Linked DNA regions of Homo sapiens: region 2 is linked to region 1. The links come from fine-mapping of genetic effects on gene expression. A gene starts in region 1. The other region holds a variant in brackets. All regions are shown on one strand. Distances are between the middles of the regions. Region 1 holds the start of TRG-AS1 (T cell receptor gamma locus antisense RNA 1). Region 2 overlaps AMPH (amphiphysin).

Region 1 (5,534 bases):
TCAGAGATGCCATCATTAAATAGTCTATGAATAAAAGCATTCAAATAAATGATATGGACTTCTTTATTCATACTTATGAAGTGTATGCACTTTTAGAGGCAAGACACAAAATCTAGACACTGGAAGATAAAAGATTGATTAAAATGTATAAAACCTTATCAGAATGAAAATATAAATATGACGGTCAAATAGAAACAATATATACTGCACTATGACAAACAAAAGACTTTTCTGTAATACTGAAAGACTTGTTCTGAATAAGAAAAAGTGAAAAAGTTCAACTGAACTGATAAAAATATTGTTACCTATAGGGTCAGGGAGAGAAGAGGAAAGAGAAATCCAGAATGGGGCCTGGTGAGGTTGCTCATGCCTGTAATCCCAGCACTTAGGGAGGCCGAGGCAGGGGGATCATCTGAGGTCAGGAGTTCGAGACCAGCCAGGCCAACATGAGGAAACCCTGTCTCTACCAAAAATACAAAAATTAGCTGGATGTGCTGGCGGGCACCTGAAATCCCAGCTACTTGGGAGGCTGAGGTAGGAGAATCTCTTGAACCCAGGAGGCGGAGGTTGCAGTGAGCCGAGATTGCTCCACTGCACTCCAGCCTGAGTGACAGACTGAGAATCCGTCTCAAAAAAAAAAAAAAAAAAAAAAGAGAGAGAAAAAGAAATCTAGAATGTAAGTTAAAATCTCCAAATGCATCTTCGTTAAAATTATGACTTTAGTTCCATGTAAATAGTTTACATATGCAAAACAAATATGAAACAAAACAAAATAATACAACAAATGTCTAAAATTTTAAAATGAAAACTGAACAAATAAACTAGCTATATCAATGTTGGCATGAACATGTAAAGAAAAATTATTTCAAATGATTTTGTTGAAAAAATATTCGGATTATGTACCCAAAAAGGAAAGAAAGAGAGAGAAAAGCAAGGAAGGAAGAAATGAAAAAAGGAAGGAAGGAAGGGAGGGAGAGAGGGAGGGAGGGAGGGAGGGAAGAAAAAATAATAAAAGCAAGCAAGGAAGTAAGAAAGGAGAGAGAATAAAAGGGAGGGCAGAGGGAGAGAGTGTTTAACTGCATATCTAGGCCTAGTGTTTTAGTGGTATTTATAATATTGCCTATATTGTTATAGACATAAGGAGTAAGCAGCACTCTCAGCTGCGATCTCTGGACCATGATTGGATACATGATTCAGTATAAATACCCTTCCCATTTGCTGTCCAAAATATCTCGCTTCACAGCTGGACCCTAAGAAACAGAGTGAGTGGGCCTCCCCCATGTCCTAGGAGAGCTGAGAAAACCTTGCTCTCAGCCAGGCTGCTTAGCTGAGGCTTAGCTGAGATGGCAGCTTAGTCTTCAGGAAAGTCCTGGGGGAGGGTGGGGAACAGGGTACAGCTGCTGACAGGAGAGTGTAATATTAGGGGGGAGATCAGGAGTTAAGCTGTTTCTCTTTGTACAGAATACAGTAAATTCAGGGCAGGAAATGAGAGGGGACGGCTCTCTCTTGTGTACCAGAAGCAGCCACAAGACAGATATTCAGTGTGGTGTAGAGCAGGTCTGAATCACTCTGCCTGTCCTAGGTGGCACAGTAATAGACCCCAGAGGCATTTTCATTTAGTTTTGGAGGTATAAATTTCCAGCTTATCCTTCTACTTCCATAAGTATCATGCTTTCCTGACTGACTCCTGATTCCAACATATCCCTGGAGTTGCAGATGTCATAGTACAGAAGATGCTGTGGGGCCTTCCCCTCCTGGCGTAGGTACCAGTGGATGTAGAAGGCATTTTCTACAGGAAGATCACAGGTGATTACAGCAGATGACCCCATCTGCCTGGTGCCTGACTTTATTTTCGCTTCCAAGTTAGTAGATATCTGACTGGCTGCAATGGGAACAACATAAAATATAATGAGGTATTCCTTAGTATGGCGTCCCTTGCTAAAGAAGAAAAATCCAAAACAAAACCCAACCTGTGAGCCTCTCTGTAGGCAGCACACTTACCAAGAGACAGGAAAGCTAGAAGCAGGGCTAGGGCCCACCACATGCCTTCGTCTCTGGGGTCTTGAAAGAAAGGGCCCAGATGAACAGGAGCAGAAGATCCTCTCAAAACTCAGGTCCCACTCAACAAGGAAGTGATCCCTAGCACAGAAGGCAGTGGGGAAGGCTGGTCTTCCTGAGTCACAAGCAGGGAGAAGTGACTGAGGATGTGTCTTAGGGGACTCCCACGCCTTCCTTCCAGAAGGGTGGTGCCTGGGAGGACCTGCAGAGGAGCTCCTGCCTCTCTGCTCAGGCCAGTTCTGCAGCACCCTCTGTGGCAGCTGAGAGCAGGCCCTCTGCAGAAGAGAGCCAGGGGCATGGAGAGTTCAGGCCTCCAGCAGAGGGAGTGCAGATATGGGGAAAGCTGACCCCTGGAGTCAGCAGGCCCAGCCCTAGGAGGGGGCAGTCCCACAGCAGGCTCACACCCTGCCCTTCAGAGTTGCAGCAGCTAATGCTGATGCCAGGACCTTGTCCTGCCAGGAAGCCTCTGATTAGGGCTGTGAACCAACTTCCTTTTCACATCTGCAAGGACACTTGGAGGCAACTGCCCAAGGCCACTCTGAGGAGGGTTGAATGTTCTTTATTAAAAGGACTGAGGATCATGTGTGTTGGTGGGCCTTGGACTCTGCTCTAAGGTAAATGTGTGTGTGTGTGGCGGGGGGCGGGGGGGGGGGTGCCTGTAATCCTGTGGGTGTGATCTCTTTATTAGACAATTTTTGTTCATTAAAGTAGGAGTGTAAGTTTGTTTGTTTGCTTGTTTGTTTTTAAAGTAGTACTGGGTGCCATGTCATGAAATATTTGGAACATACTTGAACTAAAAACTTGTTATATATCTGAACTTCCAAATTCCCTGGGTATTGTATATTTTATTTGTCATCCCTACCCTCAGAAAGCAGACTAATATCTGCAGTGCACCTGGATTCACAGATGGAAATAAGGGGACAAAACAAGTACAGTAATATAATTGTGAAAATTCAGTAGGGCATGCACAGATTACCACCACCTCTGTAAGAAGTATATAGAGACACATGTTTGAAATATGCATAATGAGATGTAGAACAATGTCTCTCTTGGTTGTTGTGTTGTCCTAGCTCAAATTTTGCAGTTTCTGCTGTCATCACAGCTGGGAATGAGAAAGGGAAGGGGCTCCAGTTGGTCTCCCTCTGCCTCTGGAGCACACGTGGAGGACATGAGGCTTCCGCAGGAACAGCTCTGAAAGCTGAGTTCTCGGGTCCCTGTGAAGGAGGGAAGCTTGCCTGCCTTGGAGCGTGAAAAAGTCTTGCTGGACAGAAGTCTCACGGTTTAAAACTGGGAAGGGAGAGGATTGAGATCACACTAGAATGCACAGAAAATTCTTAAAACAAAAAAATGAGAGAAACTTCATCAGAATGTGAAAAGAACTATAAAGCTACAGTGCTGAAGAGAGGGCAATACTGGCACTAGAATGAGAAGATTCATGGAACACAGTGGAAAATGCAGTAAGAGAGCTGCATGTATGTAATATTTTATCATGTGATAAAGTGATATATTAATATTCACAAGGAAATAGTCAATTATTTAATAAGTTCTCTTTTTGGTATTGACTTACTGTATGGAAACAAATATTGTTGCATTTCTACCTTACTAGTTACAAATAGTGATTTAGTTGTAATAAAATGAAAATCATTAGACTTAAACGATGATGAATTGCATAGAAGTTCTAGGTGAGATTGGCCTTTCTAAGCCTGGCATCAAACTAGACACCCTAGAAAAATGGACAGATATTATTTTATTTTTCAAAGTTCAATTCACCATAGGTGCCAAATGTAAATAATAACACATGAGGAGTAATATCTTCAACACATTGGATAAAGGGTCAGTATCTCTAAAATAGTATATATTAATTCTTACGAACCAATAAGAAAAAATTAATCCTCCAAAAGGAGAATAGGCAAAGAGTATCACAAGGCGATTCTCAAAAGAAGAACTATAAATGACCTATAACGTTGTCAAATATTGCTAGTACTCCTAAAGATGGGGGAATGCAAATCAAATTAACAAATCTCATTTTCAGAACCACAGAGCTTGGATTGCCATCATTATTAAATTAAAGTATATGACTTAGGGAATGTTAATTAACCCCCCAATTTCTTATGTTACATTCAACGGTACTTTAAACCCTTAATGAAGTTTCTGTGTAGATTAAATAAAATGTGCATGCAATGTGCTTAGTACATTAACTACCAGAATGTCAGCACCCATATGTACCATCAATATTATTATTATCATTATTCATTTTTTTGAGACAGAGTCTCACTCTATTGCCCAAACTGGACTGTAGTAGTGTGATATTAGCTCACTGAAACCTTCACCTTCCTGGCTCTAGAAATTCTCCTGCCTCAGCATCCAAAGTAGCTGGGATTACATGTGTGCGCCACAACAGCCGGCTAATTTTTTGTATATTTAGTAGAGACAGGGTTTCACCATGTTGGCTGAGCGGGTCCAAATCTCCCGGCCTAAGTGATCCTAATGACTGGACTGGCCAAATGCTGGGATTACATGCATGAGCCACCGGGCGTGGCCAGTATTATTGTTATTAATACAGTAATTATTGTATAAAAATTCCTGATGGATCAATGATGCCATCATTAAATAATCAACACATAAAAACATTCAAATAAATGATATGGACGTCTTTATGCATACTTATGAAGTATGTGCACCTTTAGAAGTAAGACACACAATCCAGACACAGGAAAATATAAGATTTATTAAAATGTATAAAAACCAAATATCAGAATGAAAATATAAATATGGCATTGAAATAGAAACAATACATACTCTGCTATGACAAACAGAGTGAAACAGCTCAAGTGAACTGACAAAAATATTGTTACCTGTAGTGTCAGGGAGAAAAGAGGAACAAGAAATCTACAATGGAAGCTAAAATCTTCAAATGCATCACCTTTTATGATTTTGACTTCAGTTCCATGTAAATATTTTATATATACAAAACAGATTTGAAACAAAACAAAGTAATACAACAAATTTCCAAAATGTAAAAATGAAAACTGAACAGTTAAACTAGCTGTATAAATGTTGGCATGAACAAATAGAGAAAAATTATTTCAAATGATTTTGTGGAAAAAGTATTCTCATTATGTACCCAAAAAGGAAAGAAAGAGAGAGAAAAACAAGGAAGGAAGGAGGAAAACAAGGAAGGAGAATGGATGGAAGGAAACAAGGGAGGAAGGGAGGAAAGGATGGATGGAGGGAGGGAGTTAGGGAGGGAGAGAAAAATAAAAACAAGCAAAGAAGTAAGAAAAAAGAGAGAGAGAATAAAAGGGAGGGCAGAGGGAGAGAATGTTCAACTGCATACCTAGGCCTAGTGTTTTAGTGGTCATTATACTATTGCTTATATTGTTATAGACATAAGGAATAAGCACCACTCTCAGCTGTGATCTCTGGACCATGACTGGATAAATGATTCAGTATAAATAACCTTCCTATTTGCTGTC
Region 2 (5,000 bases), 93 kb after region 1:
AATGAGGTTATTTTAATACACACACACACACACACACACACACACACACACACCTCATTAAAATGAAGTAAACAAGGTGTCCAAATTTTAGAGCTTGTCACATCTTTGAGGAAATGCAGGCCCTAATCACTGCTAATGCTATTTCCTTCCCATCTCATTCAAGAGGATGTAGGATGACCAGCTTAATGGTAAATGAGCCCCAGAAAAATAGTTCTTCAATATGTTAAATTAGATGATAACACACTGCTCAATGAATTGGTAATCATACAAATTGGCAGAGCACCCCCTAAGACATGAATGAATTACACTTACTACTGGTATTTTAATTATAAAGCTTATGAATCCCGGGGAGTGAGGCCAGATGGTTCAAATGGCTTCCACTATGGGTGAGGGGAGCAGGGAAGACTTCTCTTTCTTATTTCCTTTATGATTGAGAATTGCTGCTAAAGCCACATCCGATTATGCCCATGTCTTTGTGACTAGAATGGATCCACGTTTATGCACTTATTTTGAACTACTAAATGTCAACAGCAAACTAGAGAGCCTGGCATTGCCACCTTAAAAATATGATGGTTTTCGGTTGAGATTGCAGAGGCCTCATTTGGGCTCCGTATTATAGAAAGCAGGCCCTGTGGTTCTGATACCCACCCACCTGGTTGGGTCCCATTCTAACCGTTCTGCATGGCCTGCCTTGCATCTCCATGCAGCCTGCCTGGTCTCTTGCTTAGCATTTTCTCGTAGGATGACTAAGACAGGAGAGAACAGCTCCATGGAAAGCCACAGTTTTTTGTACATGGATCTAATATATGTTTTCTGATTATCTAGATGATTCTCATTTCATTGCTTCATAGCCACTTAAGAATCAAAGATCATGGCCGGGCGCGGTGGCTCACGCCTGTAATCCCAGCACTTTGGGAGGCCGAGGCGGGCGGATCACGAGGTCAGGAGATCGAGACCATCCCGGCTAAAACGGTGAAACCCCGTCTCTACTAAAAATACAAAAAATTAGCCGGGCGTAGTGGCGGGCGCCTGTAGTCCCAGCTACTTGGGAGGCTGAGGCAGGAGAATGGCATGAACCCGGGAGGCGGAGCTTGCAGTGAGCCGAGATCCTGCCACTGCACTCCAGCCTGGGCAACAGAGCGAGACTCCGTCTCAAAAAAAAAAAAAAAAAAAAAAGAATCAAAGATCATAAAAGCTAGTGCATGTCTCTGTATAATGCACACATCACCAGTTATTTTCTTTAAAAGGAAGGCAGGAAATATGAAATGTCATGTTTATCAGTCCTCAGGATCATGAAAGGATGCGTTAGCGTGCACAGATACTGCAGAGATCACAAGATGAGGTGTTCTGCTAGCAGCAAGAACACCACTTGAAAACATGGGGTCAGGTGATGGGTAAAGGAGGTCATTTTGAGTGAAGAGGAAAGAAACCAGGCAGACCTAACAGTGCTATGCTTTTTTTGTCATTCAGTCAAGACTTTTGTTCTTAGCAAAAGAGGAGAGGTATGATCAAAGCTGGACTGCAGGACAACTATAGTGTAATGACTCAGTTATGGCCACCAGGAGGCTAGAGGGTTTTATTACCTGGCCCTGAGGAAGAGCACAGGGACACACACAGCTTGCCGTCACTGCGGTGATATATGTCCTTCAGAACTAAAACTTTTGAAGATTAAACCAAGGTCATTTTTGTTTAATTTTGAAGAATCTCTTAGTCATAAGGCCACACACAGTTTCATGATTTATGGATTAATGTAATCATGAATTAACATAAAAGAGGTTTCTCTCCTGATTCAAACTTGTAGACAGAAATGCTATGAAATCTCACCCACTAATCATTCCAGCATCCACTGCAGAAACTTTGCATCTGCCACAAAAGAAATGAAGCATGGGCCGGGCATGGTGGCTCATGCCTGTAATCCCAGCACTTTGGGAGGCCGAGGTGGGCAGATCACGC[G/A]GTCAGGAGATCGAGACCATCCTGGCAAACATGGTGAAACCCCACCTCTACTAAAAATACAAAAAATTAGCCAGTCGTGGTGGCAGGCGCCTGTAGTCCCAACTACTCGGGAGGCTGAGGCAGGAGAATGGCGTGAACCAGGGAGGTGAAGCTTGCAGTGAGCCAAGATCGCACCACTGCACTCCAGCCTGGGCATCAGAGTAAGACTCCATCTCAAAGAAAAAAAAAAAAAAAGAAGCATGGAGAGTAAGGCAGAGGAAATCCTGTGAATTCTGCAGGCTGTCTATATAATGAGAAATCTCTGAGAAGGAAGTATATTCAATTATATGTACATTCACTTTGTACTTTTCTTGGTCACCAAGGTGGAACCCTCAAACTTGTTGACAATACTTTAGCATTTCTCAAAATATTGTTTTAGAGAACATTCCAATGAATATTAAGAAAAGTGTAGTTAACATAGATTTCTGTGGTCAAACAAATTTGGGAAACTCTAAGTTAAACAAATATAAACAGTTTTTTTAAATTGCAGAACTTCTCAGCCTTTAATATTCTAATGCACATCATGAATCTTCTAGAAGAGAGTTAATACAGGAGGCTTCCTGGAACTTTCACCTAAGAGACCCTTTTGTTTTTTGCAAAGCATCTTCAAGGCTAGTGTTTAGACTATTAATTTCTTACTTTATTAACACCTTGGACATTTATTGTTCATATTGCACAACAGGAAAGCCTTTAGAAGCCCAATCACATTCTAGAAAAAAGCATGGACTAGACATAATCCTTATTTATTAAGGTTCATATTGAGCCATTTATTCCCTAGCAGTTTACTGTGATATACCAAGAAGGCTTCAAGGCCAGGGAATCAAGCTAGGTCTTAATTCCTAGGTTGAATGTTACAATATTCTTGTACTAATTCATTTGAAGCATACTCTAGCAACTTTGGATTTGCCTAAATTCATATGTGGGGCTCCAACCATATGCAAAGTACTTATATAAACAGTTTCTGTTTTGTCAAATTTTGAGTTAACTTCCTTCTATTAGCACAGACAGTTGTAAACTAACTATATTTCAGAGGACCTACCCACAGGTCATTATGGCACCTACCACCAGTATCCTCTGACAGAGAATGTAATGACAGTTACTATAAGAAAGGAAGAAATATGGAGTGTGAGGGAGTGGTGAGCAAAAAGGCTTGGGGAAGCAAGGCGACTCTCCATCAAACCATAACCATGATCACAGGAGGGGAGCTTCTTCAATGGGGAGGATGAACACAGCATCATCAAGTTCAGAACGATCAACACTGAAAACGGCTTCTGCTGGCCCGTGCTTTCATGGTCATTGCAAACACACTTTAACTTGCAAAGTATGAGGAAGGGAAGTAGAGAAAAGAGCAAGAAGAGTAAACCCAAAACCAAAAGAAAGAGCTTCATCCAGGGAAACCATAAAATGTATCCTGTAAACCTGAACAGTTCTGAGTGCAACGTGGGCACTGGTAACAATTACTCTGGGGGAGAAAACAGGAATGTATGGTTATGCCAGCTCTATGGGTAGAGAAAGCTGATGGCATGGGAGTCTTAGAATAACTGATATAGATAAGGTCCCCTTTCTACCCCTCTTTCCTATTAGGAAATATCTGTCAACCAAAAATAAAAATAGATAGTAGTCATGAAAGGTATAGGGATCATTGGTTACCACACTGAGCTTACTGAGGTTTATGAAATATCTCCAAACATCCAAAAAGCACCTGATACCTGAGACATGGGTGAGTGGGTCACTCCAGCAGAACCTGCAGGTGTCACCTCGGGCTTGAAAGGATCAAAGTCCAGATCCAGCAAAGTCTCCTCTTTCTTCACCTCAGGGACTTCATTCTGTTAAAGCAAACAACAAAACAAAATAAAACATGTATTAGCTTGAATCTGATAAGACCATGATATAGCCCATGTATACTCTCTCTAATATTATTATTGAGTATCTCCAAAACACACTTTTATAAGCATGGTGGCTCACCCATATGCACCCAGTCACTCAGCTAAATGCAGTGAGAAGGAAATAACTAACTCTGGCCAAGTATAACCTAAGTTGCCCTGGAATGTGTCCCAGGCTCTAGCTCTTGTCCTTTGTCTAGCTCCAAGTCCAGTCAACAGAGAGAATGTTCCAAGGATGTATCCTAATATACCAAGATGCAAGGAGTCTCCTCTGTCAGCTCAGAGAACTTGGATCAAGAAATTACAGATGACCCAATCGATAAAATGGGCCAAGATCTGGACTCATTATAGCAATACTGCTGATGTTCTTCTGGGAAGCTAAAATTTTAAAAGGAAGGTGCCATTGTGTACTGCTGACCACATCCCAACGGCCTCATTCCCTCACTGGTACCCTACCCCTTGATTTGGTTATCATTTGATCCAGTCTTCATCCATAGCATTGTTAGTTTCAATTGTGTATGTGTATGAGTGAGGGTGAACGGGAGGGAGAGAGGAGAGAGACAGCCATGCCTCCCAACATTTGCTGCAAAATGAGCTCCCATTAATAATATTTTTGGATTAGAAAGAAGGTAAGCCAAATAAGACACAGGACGAAAGTCCTGCTTTGATAATACAAAAAAATCTATAATACTAAACATTATCATTTGTTCATTTATTTGTGGTATCATAATACATGAAAACAATGTGGGCTTGAAGTCAGCATAACCCAGGCTCAAGTTACACAGTAAAGGGCCAGGCTAAGACAAAGTCCCATAAAGTACATCACAGAAAAGGGAGTTGGGGTCAGTTTTCATACAATTTAAATTACATGTGTTTAGCATTCAATATAAAATTCTTTTTAAAAAAACTTTGTTGCCTAGAAATTGAAACGTCAAACCAATGGGTAAAGTATACATAAAAACAGATTTTTGGAGACAGATTTTTGAAGAATAGGAGTTATTCTAATTAATATTCATCACAGACATTAAAAACTGAGAAATGTATGAAAAGTGAGGGCCAGACACAGTGGCTCATGCCTGTAATCCCAGCACTTTGGGAGGCCGAGGTGGGCAGATCAGGAGGTGA

Evidence for each region. PIP is the estimated chance that this variant, and not a neighbour inherited with it, causes the effect.
Region 2: its variant is fine-mapped to the expression of TRG-AS1 in whole blood (INTERVAL, PIP 0.92).

Annotation. Positions count from the first base shown.
Region 1 is chr7:38,339,128-38,344,661 of GRCh38, forward strand. It overlaps TRG-AS1 (T cell receptor gamma locus antisense RNA 1), which reads left to right and starts at 2,294. Exons shown (of 4, transcript NR_040085.2): 1 at 2,294-2,672. It also overlaps TRG and the pseudogene TRGV6.
Region 2 is chr7:38,432,571-38,437,570 of GRCh38, forward strand. It overlaps AMPH (amphiphysin), which reads right to left. Exons shown (of 21, transcript NM_001635.4): 12 at 3,702-3,818. Among named protein-coding and RNA genes, the nearest start is that of TRG-AS1, 94 kb to the left of the region's middle. RefSeq lists a silencer at 1,430-1,648. The variant G/A (reference allele first, on the strand shown) is at 1,954.